Regions from separate parts of the Homo sapiens genome. Here region 2 is linked to region 1. A link means that fine-mapping ties the variant in region 1 to the expression of a gene that starts in the linked region. Tissue or cell type: blood mononuclear cells. Region 1 holds a variant in brackets; the other region holds the start of a gene. All regions are shown on one strand. Distances are between the middles of the regions.

Evidence for each region.
Region 2: TENM4 starts here. The variant in region 1 is fine-mapped to the expression of TENM4 in blood mononuclear cells (TOPMed, PIP above 0.99). The same link has a PIP of 0.9 or more in T cells, lung and monocytes.

What each region holds. Positions count from the first base shown.
Region 1 is chr11:79,377,613-79,385,942 of GRCh38, forward strand. The region is part of intron 1 of TENM4 (teneurin transmembrane protein 4); the gene reads right to left. Among named protein-coding and RNA genes, the nearest start is that of MIR708, 20 kb to the right of the region's middle. The variant A/G (reference allele first, on the strand shown) is at 3,830.
Region 2 is chr11:79,437,398-79,445,727 of GRCh38, forward strand. It overlaps TENM4 (teneurin transmembrane protein 4), which reads right to left and starts at 3,633. Exons shown (of 34, transcript NM_001098816.3): 1 at 3,112-3,633. RefSeq lists silencers at 3,222-3,331, 3,592-3,761.

The DNA of each region.
Region 1 (8,330 bases):
TAAATTACTTCTGTTCTCCCTTTTTTGTTATGCAAATAAGTGTCAGTGCTAACCTAGTGCTCACTATGTGCCAGTCACCAAGCTAAGCCTTCACTTGCAAGGGAAGTACTGGACAGCATTCCCAAGAGGGAAGCTGGATGGGTTAAATGTGGCCCTAAAAGAAAAGTGTTCTGTACTCCCTAGAAAGTGGAGATGTGATTTACTGGAAAGCTATAACGTCCTAGAAAGAAACACAAGCCAAAAAACAAAACAAAATACAATTAAAAAAAATAGAGATATTTTACTCTGCCAAGGGCACCTTTCCCATCCTTTTGTAACCAGCCAAGGATCTTTTCCCGGTAAGTGTGTCTTTCCCATAATACAGAGGTCAGGCTCAAACACTAAACACAGTTGAACATCCTCTCATTTCATCATCTTTACTCTCCGTGCCTTCCTTGAGAATTGACTTTTCTAGACCCACTGGTCTAAAATTTTTATTTTAAAAAAAGGCAAATTAAAGTACAAAGCTGCTGGTACCACCTGAAAATGTCAAGGTTAGAAAGGCAACAGCTTCTCCCCAGGAACTAATGCTTTTCTGTCTCATAGGAAATCTTGTGCATGCCTGGATCTTGGGCACTGGAGACCTGTCGCCACCAAGATCTGTCCTGCACCTGTAGGGGCCAATGGAGTAGGGGGCCTGGGGCCCTTCTCTGGCTCTTTATCCTGGTCCCTGCCAAGGCCTTAGTCTGGATGTGGGGATCACGCTCCTGACAGGGCAACTGGGGAAGAACAGGGGAAAGAAGATGATGAAAACGAGCAAGACTGGTGGAGAAGGAACATTGCATGGCTGCCCAGCTAAGTGAGGAGCATGGGAGGAATAATCTAGGTCTTTCTTCTGGAATCCCGGTCCAGACTGTCACCTGGGGGCATGCCTTGCTCTGAACCACTTCCACACTCCACCTTATGTCCAGACTGGGCTCCCACTCACACAGTATGCAGAGAAGGGGCAGGTGCAGGCTCCAGACTGCTGGGGGTTGAATCCTCGAACCACCACTAATGAACTGAGAGGCACAGGAAATATGTCTTAACCTTCCCTGCCTCAGCAGCCTCACCTGTAAAATATGGATAATAGAAAGAAGATGAGAGCCAGGCATGGTTGTGTGCACCTGTTGTCCCAGATACTCAGGAGGCTGAGGTGGAAGGACCGTTTCAGCCCAGGAAGTTGAGGCTGTAGTGAGCTATGATTGCACCAATGCACTCCAGCCTGGGTGACAGAATGAGGCCCTGTCTGTTAAAAAAAAAAAAAAAAAAAAGGAAAGAAAGAAAATGAGGAAAGTGTGGCTCAGGAAACCTGTAACACAGTCCTTCTTTATTCCTTCTTCTGCATTCTTTCTGCAAACACACTGGTAAGCCCAAGCCTCTGCCCTCATAGAGGTTACAGTGCTTGTAGGGGTAAGAAAATAAGACAATGAGAGTGTGAGGAAATGCACATTTTGCTGGCAGAGACAGGCCCAGGGGAAGGCCTTTACAAGCGAGGGTGCTGGACGGGTTAGCAATAGGTAGCAGCATATGCAAGGCCAGGAGGAGAGAAAGGCTCGTGGGTTCAAGGACAGAGCAGAGGTCAGAGTGCCTGGAGCAGTGGACTAGGTTGAGAACAGCACAAGGAAAGTCAAAGAGCTACCTCCCAGGCCAGGTCAGGCCTGAGTTGTTTAAGTTTTATTTTAATTGTGATGCTAAACCTACTTTGAGGGTTTTTATGCAGGGGAGTGAGGCTGTTATAGCCGTGTTATCGGAAGACCTCTCTGGATGCTGTGTGGAGACTGTACTAGCGTAGAGTGGAAACAGGACCCCTTTTAGATACGATTGACGTGGTTCAGGGAGAGATGACAATGGACTGGATCAGGGTGGTCCAATTTGAGATGGAGAGACGGATGGGTTCAAGGAGTACTGTGATATCTGATGTTCACTTGAGTGCTGCTTGGCACTGTACAAAGCACTGAGCATCCACTATTTTATATGCTCCTTCTGACAGCCATATGAAGTCAGTGCTCATGTTATCTCCAGGTGAGAAAATTAAGGACCAGAGAGGTTAGGTGATTTCCCTCAGACCACACAGTGAGTAAGTGGCAGAGGCAGGATCTGGACCAAGGCCATCCTGTTCCAGAGCCCATACACCACACTGCTCTTCCTTGAACAGGCCTGGACAATGGATGGGCTGAGGGTGGTGAGGGAGAGGAAAAATGAGACAGCTTCTAGGGTTTAGGCTTGAGGAACGGGGCTAATGGTGGTGCTGTTTACAGATGGGGATTAGCTGAGGGAGAGACTGGCTTGTCAGGGGCTGGGGGATCAAGAGCTCTGCTTTAGACATGTTGAGTTCCAGCCACTTTCGTCTGCTCTTCAGCCCTTTTCTGTCTCCACGGGGCAGTCAATAATGGGGGTGAAAGTGAGGGCAGGGCTGGTGGGGCAGAGAGAAGCAGGACAATTGTTCTCTGTCTACAGAACCTCCTTCCCCCAACACATGCAGCTATGAGCCTCCCAATGTCCTTTTATAAAAGGAGGTGTGATGGCAACATCTCCAGAAATGCAGCAAATGTTGAATGAGAAAAGCAAAGCAAGATTGTCTAAACACCTTTTGTTTGCCTTCAAGATTTCTCATAAGTTATCAATAGTTCTTGGGAGTGGCACACATGGGCATTTTCCACATCAAGACAGTGTAGGGAAAAAAAAAAAGAAGAGAGGAAGAGAATGAATGACAACACAAGGCTGCACTATGCTTCTGAATGCTGGAGGCGGGAATCCAATGCTATTTCAGGGACTGGGGTGGTATCATGGGAGAATCTCCATCCTTGGGGGCCCACTTGCTGAGTCAGGTCTTGGGAACAGGCTGATTGATCTATTTCAGTGTTTACTGAAGAGTCATTTGGCTCTGTAGGATGTTAATAAGCATTAACAAAGCAAAGATTCCTTGTCGCATAAGCTTGGGAAAAGCTGGCTTATTATAGCTTCTTTACTGCAGGACTTCTCAGAATCTTGAACTTGGGAATGCACACTGTGAACCTCCAAGAAGGAGGGGAATTTCCCAAATGTGTTTAATCACAGAACGCTTTTGTAGCCAAGCACTCCAAGGATGCTTGTTCCAGGAAACAGATTTTGGGAAATGTTCATCAAATTCGTTTCATTCTTACGGAAAGGCAATAGAACCATTACTCAGAATTGAATGTTGGAGGTTCCTGGATGTGCAGACTGGAAAACCAAGCCAGAAGCTTTGTAAGGAAGATCGAAGAATAGAGGCTGTGTAGTAAGGCTTGGGGCTGTGTGACCATAAGCCATTCTCAATCTTGGTTTCTCAACTGTCTGGTGAGAATGAGAATAACTTCCCTGTAGAATTCTTGGAGGATTAGTGGAGATAACTCACACTAAGGCCCCAAATGCAGGAGCCTAGAACACAACAGGCCTCTCTAGATCCTCCGAGGCCTCTGGCAGGCTCCTTGTAGCCCTGACTCTTGAGTGCATGATCCGTGCAGGTCAGATAGCCCTTCTGACCTCCTTGCTACACCAGCTTGCTTTTTTCCTTGGCAACAGTGCTCCCCAGGTAGCCCAATTCCCTGCCATTATCAGGCTTCTCAAGTGGTCAATCAAGGGTAGCCAAGTCCGGCCTGGAACTTCTAAACAAGTACCCCCTCAGGAAAGCAGTCTTTATAGCCAATGATGCAATTATGTCCCACAGCTCAAATGGCCTGGAAAAAAAAAAAAAATCCAGGAGGAAAGAACCAGTGTGCACAGCTTTCTAAATGCATCAGGTTTCTAAAATGCTCCAAGGCTCCTTGTCTGTTGTAACCATGGCTTCTGC[A/G]GTGGCTAACACACAGGACCTAGCCCTGTGTTTCAAGAGTCCCCAACGTTTGCTCACCACTCAAGCGTTCATTCAACCCGTTGACCGAATTGAGTTCATTAAACTCTGGACCGAATTTGGGGCCAGGTATTAGGGTGCAAATGAGCAGCCCATCTAGTGTGCAAGGTAGACAGTGAGTCAGTAAGCATTGGGATATTTGAATTGGATGGGTTCAAGGAGTACTGTGATATCCGACGTTCACTTGAGCGCTGTTTGGCACGGTACAAAGCTCTGAGCATTCACTATTTCATATGTTCCTCCTGACAGCCATATGAAGTCAGTACTCATGTTATCTCCAGGTGAGAAAATTGAGGACCAGAGAGGTTAGGTGATTTCCCTCAGACCACACAGTGAGTAAGTGGCAGAGGCAGGATCTGGACCAAGGCCGTCCTGTTCCAGAGCCCACACACCACACTGCTCTTCCTTGAACAGGCCTTGACAATGGACGGGCTATACACAAATTTCAATGACAACAAGAGGGTCCAGGCTTTGGTTCATTCCAAGGTGGGGTTTCAAACTAGGTCACATTTAGGGAGCATTTGGCACGTGCCAGATATGGTGGTAGAATATTTTTGCATAAATTATCTCAACTTAGACATAATTACAACACAATTTTCCGAAGGAGAAAATAGCAAATCAGATAGGTACAGGGAGTTGCCCAAGGACACACAGCTCATTAGGGGGAGGGCCAAGATTCAAATGTAACTCGTCTGGCCGGGCAGCCTTCAGCCAGCCACACCTGAGCCAAATCAACTGAGGGAATTGGCAGTGGCCGTGCCAGAGGGTTCTCTGGGGATTAGAGGTGGTGGTCTCTGTGAACACCCTTCCTTAACCTGGGGGCTTCAGACACATGCTCTTTTGTTCCTTCTGTCTTGTGTTTCTTTTCCTCTGCCTTGTGCAGGCTTCGCTTTCGGTGGAATGAAAGCCTCCTACTTATGTACATGCCACTCTCAGTCCAGAATTTAGTCAAAATGAGCAAACATGGAGTTCTCAAGAAAGTTTTTACCAGCATCTGCAATCCCCCATGCCCTGCAGAGATCAGCCTCAGGAACTCTACTGGCAGCAATCCTGGAATACTTCCTGAAGGAAGCCTCCTATGTGGCAGAATCCAAGCAATTATGAAGTCCAGAGCATCTTGTAAACATGGAGACCTGAGTCCTCAGTGAAGCAGGGAGAAGGGATGGAGGGTAGGGAGGGGGAGGAGGACACTGGGGAAGGGGTGCTACCGTGAGATTTGTTTCCCGAGAAGAGGCTGGGAGCCTCTTCTTCAAAGGCTCAGAGCTGGCTTCAAGCCTGAGAAATGAAACCACTCCTCTCTATGGGGAGAATCCTTGGAAGAATATTTATGAGACATTAAAACCACTGCCATCAACCCTTTAAAAAATTCCTGTACATGTAATTATGGGTCCAGGGATGAGATTCCTGGATATGGTATTAATTACTTCCCTGAAGCACACAGCCCCCAGGGGCTGCGAGCAGGCACGCTCTGCCTGTGGCCTCCTGGGTCTCCCTCTGCCCCTACAGACCCTTCCCTTCATGAGTGTGCTGTGGCTTCTCCAACTGCACCCTGGCCCCGCCATCCATCTTCTGCCTTTCTGCCCTGCTCTGTGCCCAGGAGGCTGGTCAAGTAGGTGTACCCTCTGAGTCCCCTTTCTGGCCACCCCTCACTGGCTTTGGCCAACAGAAAGCACTAGCAGGAGAGGGGAGGGCAGGAGGGGAAGAGCCTTGCCTCCGCCTTGCTTCAGTGCTGCCTAGCACTACAATGCCAGCTCCTGCCCACAGCAGCCTCTCCATCAGGCCTTGCTCTCTTTTGGCTTCAGAAATACCACTTTCTCTCCTTGCCTTGCCCCTTTAGACCTGGGTGGTTTGGTTCCACCCCCAGGTGCCCTCAACATCTCTTATTTGTTCCCTTAACCCTGACTGCTCCACTTCCACAAAACACTTCCTTCATTCAAGTCTCTTTATTTGGACCATCTGGGATGAATTCTATTTTCTGATGAGAATCTGACAAGAAGCAAATCAGGAAGGGAGCTGCGATATTTCAGGCCCATGGCCACAAACTCAGTAAGGAGTAAACCTGCTCAATCACCACCTCACTGGTGTGTCTTCATGTTCTGTGCCAGGTGTGGGTGCTGGAGATGCAAGCTGTGGGCCAGGGAGGGTGCTCATGGCCGGTGGGGAGCTCCTGATCCTGTTTCTCTCTCCTCTTGACCCCTCCCACTCCCCACTATATATACATGTGTTTCTATTTTTTTACTGTAGTCTAAAACAAAACACCACATTACTGACATCCTTGATCAACAAAATATTAGAATAATAGAGATTTTTCAATTCATCATTCATGCACCAAACCTGCCCTGCTTTCTGTGTGTCAAGCCTTGAACAAGAAACCACGGCACAGAAATGAATGTTCACATAAGGCACGTCCCTGCCCTTCAGCACTGCCAGAATATTGAGCCCCATATTTCTATGAAGCAACCAAGGAAACCTTCTGCACTAGAATCAAGATAACCTGCCCCCCCTTCCTTTCTTCCCCATGGGTTCATCTGCTAGAACACAGCTAACCAGCCAGCCAGCCAAATAGCCAGCCAGACAGACAGGCACACATGCCAGCCTGATGACCAGGAATTTCATTCAGTGCCACAGCAGTGTTAATTTACAGTGTTTTAGACCCAGCTTGTGGAGGAATGAATAGAAACTGAACATAGCAGAGGGCCTGAATCCATACAATTCCTTCATTTTCCTCAATAGGACCTAATCAGTATTTCTTTTGCGAAATGAAGAGTAACATTGATAGTAATAACACGATGCTGTGCAGGCATGCTTCTTGTTTTCATTCAACAACAGTCATGGAGCACCTGGTCTGCGTCCAGCCTCGCACTTGATCTGTGGGCTTCAGAGCATCCCCATTTGGTGTCCTTCCCTCCAGTCAGGGACACCCACTTCCCCATGCTGCTCATCATCCTCACCCCTCTGCTGACCGTGCCAGATTCTGAGCTCCTGGTCTGAGATGCGGGGGGGTTGAATTTCAGTCCCAGTCTATCACTGACTCACCTGCTGTATGAACATGCACAAACTACTTCTTCCTTCTGACTCTCGGATTTCCCACCTGCACAGTGAGGCATTAAAATGGATGGTCAGCTTAACAATAACCCACAAAACTCGGAGCACGCAGTGGCTCACGCCTGTAATCCCAGCACTTTGGGAGGCTGAGGTGGGCAAATCACTTGAGGTCAGGAGTTCAAGACCAGCCTGGCCAACATGATGAAACCCTGTCTCTACTAAAAATATAAAAATTAGCTGGGAGTAGTGGCAGGTGCCTATAATCCAAGCTACTCGGGAGGCTAAGGCAGGAGAATCTCTTAAACCCAGGAGGCAGAAGTTGCAGTGAGCCGAGATGGCACCACTGCACTCCAGCCTGGGCAACAGAGCAAGACTCCGTCTCAAAAAATAAAATTAAAATAAAATAAAATAAAATAAAATAAAATAAAATAAAATGGATGGTCAGGAGCCACCCTTTCATGAAAAATCACTGCACATTCTAAAGCCTGTGGTCACCGAGCAATGATGTGGGCTGCACAACATAGGGTTGCAGCCCAAAGTGGCATTGGAGAGAAAGAAAGGCTAGTTCCATGAGAGTGAATTAACTCTCTCTAGGCCAGTGGCTTTCACCTTGGATCCACGTTATAAACACCTAAAGGGCTTTTAAGAATCCAGATGCCCAGATTGCTGCCAAGACCAATCAAATCAGAACCTCTGGGGCTGTCACCCAAGCATCAGTATTTTTTTCAAAGTTCCCTTCATGGTGTGCAGCCAAGATTGAGAACCACTAATCTAAGTTCACTGTCAACATTTTGGGTAATTTCCACCAGATGGTCAATAATGTTCATTCAGATCACATATTTTAGATCGGGAGATTTTTCAATCATAGAAGACTGAAAGAAGCTAGGTTATTAAACCCTCTATTTGTGCCTCATCTACAAAAAAGTAATCCCCTGTTAAGATGAGAGTATATATGGATTAACTTCTATAATCAAAAATGCAATTAATTACCCAGTTAGAACAAGATTTTGAAGAGCGAATAATGCCTAATTACAAATTATGTACCCTCATTAAAATCTAACTGTTACAAATTCTTATTCAAAAAATAACCCCTTTTCTAAAGTAAATTTGCTTTACTTTACAGCTATAGAAAATATAGAAAGATTTGTGAGATTTATCCATGTTATTCCATGAAAAACATATTTTTCCCCTATCCTTTGGGAATCCCCAGAGCTTTTCAAAGGTCCTGGTTCACAGTTTCAGCCTGTTGGCAGCACTTTTCCTAACACCATCTCTCTTAGTCTGTGGACACAGGATCCCTGTGCCCCTCCTCCCTCCAAGTTACCACACACCTGCACCCTCCAAACCCCACTTGCCATTTGAGACTTTGAGTACCTGTTGTGTCTCTATTAAACAGCAC
Region 2 (8,330 bases), 60 kb after region 1:
CCGGGCCGGGGACGGGAGAAAGGCGCGGCCGGGACCCTGCACTGTGCCGCGCGGCGCTTGCGGCTGGAACTTGGCCTGGAACGCGGTCTTCTCGGCTCCAGTTTCCCGCCCAGGCCCCGCCCACCCGGCCGCCCCGCTGGTTCGCACCGCTGCTCCGGCCACCGAGGAGCCCAAAGTTGGCGGCGTCCCGCGGACTCCGGCGGAGAGCGCGAGGGAGTCGCGGCCGACTCCTGTACCACGAAGACAACTGGAGGCCGGCGGGGGAGGCGGGCCACGAGGGGCTGGGGCGAGGGAGCTGGGATGCGCGGGCCCGGCTCGCCGGGAAACAGGTTGCCGCGGAGTCCCGTCCCCTCCCCCTCTGCGGTCCCCGCCGCGACCTGATTCCCGCCCTGCCCGGGGAGCTAACCCAGCCGCCTCCGGGGCGCCCTCCTTCTTCCTGGATTCCCACGGCTGGACCAGAGCCCCTCTGGCAGCCGGGTTAAAGGCTCCTTCAGCAAGGTCAAGGCGCGGCCGGCTGGCACCTGGGGATTTTTTTCCAGCCGAGCACTGGCTTTTCAATCGCATTGTTAAGGATCATGGCAGCGGCAGGAAATCCGAAGGGCCCCACAGGTCTGCGGGAGGGAGGATTTATTTTACAGCAAGGAACAGATTCAGACAGATCGGGGATTTCAGTGGGAGGGGACGAGAGGTTTCAGGACGCTGGAATGTGGCAAAAACAAAACACTCCCCACCCATGCACATCACCATCTCCTGACTGCGGGCTGGGGGGAAGGGAGTTCAGGGCCAATGTGTCCCAGACTTCAGCGTTCCCCACGGCTGTGTCAGGGCTGGGGTGGCTTATCCCCCTACAGACGAAAATCAAGATTTAAAAGCATACTCTTACTGTGGTTTCTCTATCAAAGCCCATCAACGTGATACACAGGCTGCGGCGCTGGAGGGAAGCGGCGAAACGGGGAGAATAAACGCAACAGAAGCAAACTGCTGTCTGCAGAGGCGAGAGGCGAAGGAACGGAAGCCATACCCGACCCCAGCCCCATCCCGTCCCCATCAGCGCCGGGCTAGCGCAGGAAACCAGGAATAGGTGTAGGTAAGGGTGGCAGCCCGGCAGAGCCAGCGTTCTACTCCCTCTAACCCCTCGCCAGCGTGGGCCTGGATGGCTGGGCTGCCTGGGCATCTCCAAGGGGGACCAGGCACCGCGGGCAGGTTTCTAAACACGTGAAGGGCACAGGGCTTGAAAGACAAGGAGGGGCGCCCAGGAAGGGCGGAAAAGAGGGGCTTTGGGGCTCCCCAGGACACCAAGTCAGTTTCTGAAAACGGCGTTCCCTGGAAGGCCTTCCAACACCTCCGAGGGAAGACTTGGAGCTCTGAAGACCCAATGAAACCTCAGTTCTGACTGACTCCTCCTCTGCGATCAATTCCGGATGCCCCCACTTAGTCCCTGCCTCGGTAACCGGTTCTTTGGGGACAGCAGCATCAGCACCCGACGCCCATCGCACAAGTGGGCGCCGTGGTGCGAGGCGTATCCTAGCTACCCAGGCCGGGGTGGGGGCGCCCCGGTACTTACACTCCCCAAGCAGGCAAACTTTCAGGCTTGTCTTTCGAGAACCGGGAGCTCGCATCACAGTTCCGGGTAATCACCGAGGCAGCTTATGTAATTGCCCGCGATGCCGCTCAGCAGATCTCTCTCCTTACTCGGCCTCAGAGCTCAGTACATGGGCACCCTCTTCCCCCCACCCCCCACCCCGGCGATTGGAATCCCGAGCTTGCCCCACCACCGCCTTCTACAAAGCAGCGGGGTGATCTCGTGTGCTACAAACACCAAGCCAGTATGCAGGTTCAGGCAAAACTCTGGCTGCCTCCCTGCGCCCCTTTCACTGCGTCGATGGTTTACAGATAACTGCATTTCTATAAACCCTCTCTCCACGGTTAGGGGGTGGGAGGGAGTTAGAGATCGGGTGGGGGCTTGGCGCGGTACTGTTGAGGGCTCTGCACCCAACTGAGCAGTAATACACTCATCCACATGGACGCGGGTGCATAAATCGCCTTAACATTTTGCCCTGAAAGCGGAGCCAATTTCCAAAGTTAAGGACCACGCAGCTGAATTTCCAGTACTTTCCAACCTCGCCTAGGCGGGGGCAGGCAGAGAAGGGGCGGGCAGCGGGCAGCTAACTCGCCCGACCCCCCCGCCAAGAAGGACTCACTAGGTGAACCCCCCGCCCTTCACCCAAGTAGTTGGTTGTGTATTCCTCGGTTGCGTGTGTGTGTCCACACACACACACACACACACACACACACGCCGCCCCACTACCTTCCAGTCTGCTCCTCCAATGTAACGACCGCATTTAAAAATGGCAATTAAAATGACTGAGGAGCTCGGTGATCACATTTCAACCCAGAGCACATTTCCCGAAGCTGGGGGTGAGAGTAGTCATACAGTCACACTCACACCCGGGAGCCCTCCAAGCGTCCATCTGGCGGCTGCAGCCTCAGTTGGCTCCTAGACGAACATCAATACCGCGGCCGGGCGCCCGGTGAGGAGAGGCGGGCGCCCCGCGGGTTGCAGAGGGCGAGGAGCTGGGGTCGCATCTCCAGGATCTGAGCTCCAACCACCGCCCGTGCGGGGCTGCTGCAGCCGGCACTTGCCCCGCAGGGCAGGCTGCAGCCGCTGAAGCCCGGCGCCGCCTCGCGGGCTCCTCCAGCGCCCGACGGGGGCCTGGGGCGAGCTAGTCTGCAGAGGGGCTGCAGGCGACCGGGCCGGGGCGGGGAACGGGATCCGGGAGAGGCAGACGAACCTGGGGCGCGCCGCCTCCCTCCCACCCGCTTCCCACCTCCCTGCCCTCCCCCAACCCTTGCTCCCAGGCTCCAGTCCGCGGCGGGCTCCGGGGGCTGCGGCGGCTCCAGGCTCCAGAACAGCTTGCCTCTTCGGCCACCCGCGCCCTAGCCTCCCTCCTCCTGGGCCAGGGGAGCAAGCAAACATCTCCCGGAGCCCTCGGCAGCCGCGTGAGCTACCCGAACCCTGCCCGGGCCAGCAGTGCAGAGGGCGATGGAGCTGGCGAGGCGTCGCCGCGGTCCCCAAGGCGCTTTTCCGTAGAGCGGATCACGCCGCCTTACCGTGGCTGCAGGCTGCTACCGCCGGGGAAGCGGCGAGGACGGCGGCAGGGAGGCAAGGCGCCGCGCCGGTGGCTCCTCTCTCTCTCGGCGGCGCGGCTCCTCTGCTCCGCGAGCCGTAGCGGGGCGCCCAGGAAGGAGCAGGTCCGGGCTCTGCGCTCAGCTCCAGCGAGACCAACAATAGCTCCCGCGGGGAGCGGAGCCCCAGCGAGCCTCCAGCCGCGCGCGCACGACCGGCTCCCGCTCCCGGCCGCTCCCGGCCGGCGTCCCTGCCAGCACTGCTGCCCCACATGAAACAGCTGCAATCCCGAGGCTTCTGGGGGGTTGGGGCGGGTGTGTGCGCGCGCGTGTGTGAGTGTGTGTGTGTGTGTGTGTGTTTAATAGCTTCCCTTCTCTTCTTCCCCTCCCTGCCTGCTCGCCTGCCTGCCTCCGTCCCCCACCCTCGCTCTCTTACACACAGAAAGAGAGGGCGAGCGAGAGAGAGACACACACACACACGCACACGCACACGCAGGTTACATGAATGGGAGGCGGTAGCCAATCCTACGAGGCCGGCGAGCCGCGCGGCGCACTGGCGCTGGGAGCAGGGCCGCACTCCGGCGCGGGGGGGCGCCACGCAGGTGATGGGCGCCTCTCCGGGGGCCACGCGCGGCCGCTCCCTCACCCCAGTCTCGGTTCCTCTGTCTCCTTCCCCCTTCCTCTCCGCCGCCTTCTCCATCTTCTCTCCTTTTACCTCCTTTGCTTTCTCGAGTTCTCCGAGCTCTCTCAGTTCGGTATCTTTCTGGTCTCTTTCTTCTTTTACCCTCCTTGCTTGCTTTCTCTTCCCCTTTCTGAAACTTTCTCTTTTCCTTTCTGGACTTTCTTGTACTTCCTCTCCTCTTGCCTTTTGTTCTTTCCTCCTCCTTTGGCTTTCTCTCCAGGCTCCCCGTAGCACGGTCTCGTCCCCTCTCCCTCCTCTTCGCCTTTCCCTGGGTCTCTCTGGCGCCCAGGGCCTCCCTTCTGCCTGCTCGCTGGATGTTACTCCACACCCCCCACCCCAACACTTTTCTAGGGACGGTCTCTTTCAAGTTGCTACTGCAGCACAATCAGAGTAATTAAGAGCTGAGATCTTGAGTTCCTTCTTCAGGCATGCAAGATGCCCAAAGAAAGGCCCTCCTTCCTCGGACAACTTCCCCAAAACCATGGTAACAGCTACTGAGTCGTGATAACAATCACTTAAAAAATAGCAGTGATTGCGGTCCAAGAGATTTCTGTCCCTCGAATGTTTGGATCGTGATGGCAAGCACATTTCCAAGAGAAGGGCATTTTTATGTGATGAGAGCGGTAGTTTGACTGAGTGGCAACTTGGAAGGGCTTTGGGGAAGAGACTGGAGGAATTCCCACTCCAGCCCTGCTGCCTGCTGGCTAAAGGACTTAGTGCGAGCCATTTCCCCTTACCCGGCTTCAGTTTTCTCATCTATAAAATGGATGATACCGACTTCACCAGTTTTGGTGAGGATTAAAAGAGAGAACAATGGAAAGAAAGCACTGGGTGTATATGAGATGCTTAATTTATGTTAGTTTCCTTCTTTAAGACAACTTCCTTCATGATCTTCTGCTACAGTGTGTCTCTCTGATCTAAAGTAGTCAATGAAGGAGGAAATGTGACAATGCTAATTTCACATAAATGTGAAAGGAGGGGTAGGCTATTTTGAAAACTCTTCTGTGTGGTGAGGAGACTGTCTAGCCAGTTGCCATATGCTGATTATAAAGGCATCACAGATTATAAACGTGGGGTGCTGGAATGCCCCTTCAACATCTCATAACTAGGGCATCTCAGAAAGGCAGGGATGGGTTGGGGTGGGTGGGAAGTTTCCACACAATCTGTCCAATCTATTTTTAAAATCTTTATGATAAGTGTACAGTGACCAGTGACAAAGCCTCTGAGATTAACTAAAATGTCAAGTCTCTGCCTTTGAATAGCATTTATCAACTTTGTGTCCTCACTGCAGACATCAAATGCTGGGCATCAGCTGTGATTGGCAGTTAGATTTAGTCCTTCAACAAATATTTCTTGACCACCTACTTTGTGGCAGGTGCTGTGATAGGTCTCGGCATTCAGTGGTGAGACAAACAGGCCCTGTTTTCTGAGCTTACAGTTCAGTAGGCATGTTTCATGAATGTACACTGAGAAAATGAGACACATGTACCTGAAGGAGTAACATTGGTTTGGTGGACAAATTCTTTCATTACAGAAGATCCAAGACAGGGAGTATAAGAAAGGGATCTTTGAGAGTGATAATTTTGCAAATCACTTTCAGTCTATGCATTTCATTTGACCAGTGAGAAAAATGAGACCCAGATGCTAAAAGTAGTGGGTGAAAGTATGTTGAGAAACAAAAAATATATATAGGTTCAAAGTATCTGCCCACATGATACTGATTAATTTCAAAGGGGAAAATAGTAACTTTTCAATAGAAAACCTGAAAGACTCCACCTTGAGTGATTAAAATCAGTATTAGCAGGAATGTGACAAATAGACATCAAGTGGCCCCTGATATAGTGCACTGGGAAGGACATATCACTTCTGTGATATTCCTGGTAGACATGAATAACCTGAATCTAATCATGAGGGATGCCCAATGGAATTGTTGGGAGTAAGGGAAGACTTCCCATAGGAGATGACAGGTTCTCACTCTGTCATCCAGGCTGGAGTGCAGTGGTGCCATCTTGGTTCACTGAAGCCTCAACCTCCTGAGCTCAGGTGATCCTCCCACCTCAGCCTCTTGAGTAGCTGGGACCACAGGCATGTGCCACCACACCACGCCAAACTAATTTTATTTGTTTGTTTGTTTGTTTTACAGATGAGGTCTCACTATGTTGCCCAGGCTGGTCTCAAATACCATCAATCCTCTGCCCTAGGCTTCCCAGAGTGCTGGGATTATAGGTGTGAGCTACCATACCTGGCCTTGAGCTGAGTTTTGAAGGCAAGGAATTAGCTAGACCGTGAAAGGAGGGGAGATGCTTTTTAGGTACAGGCAATAGTATGATGACATGGACAAAAGCATGAGACACTCATAGCAGAGTTGGACATATTGGGGGAGGGTCTTGGAGGAGTCTAGATGAGTCCCTAGCATCTAGGATTGGATTTTGACAGGGCCTGAAGGAGGCTAAGGATCCAAACATCCTGAAAGTTCAGGTACTGGGGCAGAAGGAGGGTAGACAGTTAATAAAGGCTTTTAAGAAGAGGAAGGATGTGATCTTGAGTGTGTTTTCAAAAGATGATTTGGCAGCAGTGTAGAGAAATGGATTAACTGGGGTGACTTAGGAAGAGTAGAGGCAGGAAAAAGTAGGTCATTTAGGGAAACTAAGGCAGTTGCAATGAAGCCAGAAAAGGGAGGAGAGATTTGAGAGAGATTGAGGATGATTTTGATTTCTGATTGGATGGGGGTAGCAAGGAGAAGCCCAAAGTGACACTCAGTTTTCAAGCTTGGGTATCTCAATAGAAGGTGGTACTACTCATTGCGATGTCAAGAGTATTCAGGAGGAAGTAGAATTCAGGGAGCATTTTAGAGGGGGGAAAAAAGGTCAGTTGCTACCATGTTATAATCTAACTCTATAGCTAACCGGAGATTCTCCTATATGGCTGCTCTGTGCCATAGGAAACACTAGTTGTAAAATTCAGCCTAAGACCTCCAAACAGCCAGCTCTACGTATTGCCCAGAAAAACAGGAGATTGGATATAATGACAGTACATTATTTGTAATAATGGGAAAAAAATTGAAGCAGCCTAAATGGTCAAATAAAATAAGTAAACTGGAGGACAGCCTTTGTTGGAATATTATGCAGCTACTCGAAAGTGTTTTTGCAGTTTTTCGTGCCATAAAAAAGTTAGTATTGTCATATATAATATTTTAAAAGAGAATTCAAAATTGTTAGCTACATAAAAACCCTCTTGCAGAAAAGTCTGAAGAAAAAAATGCCAAATATTAACCGTGTTTTCTTCTGGGTGATGGGGTTATGAGTAATATATATTTTCTTCTTTATACTTTTTCTGGCATTTTATAATCTTCCTACTATAAACATTCATTATTCCATTATAAAAACTTTTTAAAGCTGCCATTAAAAAAACACAAAGACATGGCTATGATCATTCCCCCTCCCCTGACTTTATCCCTTTTCAATCCACCGTTCCCACTCCCCCTGAAGAGTAACTGCGTTTTGAGTTTTATCTCTGAGAGTGAAATAAGGAGGCATTTAACAAATCAGGGGAAATTAGTAGCTGGGCTAGAGAGGGGGAGAGGGCATTCTTATGGAGGCAGATACATTATGAGAGCTGTTGAAACTGTATATATTAAAGATGTTTGCATTGCCCTTATTGATTCTGTGATATGTTACAAGCAAAAGAAAACATATAGTGGGGTCAAGAAAATGTGAGTCTTTAAAGGGCAAGTTTTAATTAGCAAATGTATTTATTTGCAAAAAAAAAATCCTTCCCTTCAGAGTCCAGCTGTTACTATAAAATTGTTTCAGGGAGTAAGTACTTCAAAGCAAGAAGACACTGAGGAGCAAGAGGCAATGCCTCATGCCTGTTGTCTGACACCACATCAAATATGCAAGTTGGTTACTTAGGATTTGGACACCTACTGATAAATGCCATCAAACTTCCATAATTAGAGGGTGAGAAAAGTGCCTGCCAGAGGATAGTCTCAGTCTTTGGAAAAGTTGCTGTAAATAGTTCCCTGGTGAGGTTACATCTGCATCTCTGATTTTCGTCTCACAGAAATATTTACCCTGTGGGTAATTTCCCCAACCTAATAATAATAACACCTTACACAGCATAGCCCTTTCACCTTTTCAAAGGGCCTCCGCATCTGTTGATTGACTCAATCCTTGTACCCACGCCTGCTGGAATCCTACTTCCAGTGTGCACCAAGAGGAAGAGGGACCCAGAGAGGTTCAAACAAAGAGGCAGAGCAGGGGCTAGAACTAAAAGAAGGAATAAGAGACATTCTTGAAGAGCCTTCTGTGTGGCCCTGGAGCTTCCACGGTGTGTTATCACATAGAATTGTGATAACTAGAGGGGGAGAGTGAACACACTGAGGCTTGTGAGGTTCTGGCTCAGCCGAATCAGAATCAGAATCCAGCTCTCCAGAACTCCCAAGCCACTTGCCTTTCCCAGCATAGCCCCATTTTTAAAAGCCAAGAGGTGAGGCTGGTGGTGATTTTCTGTCTGACTGACT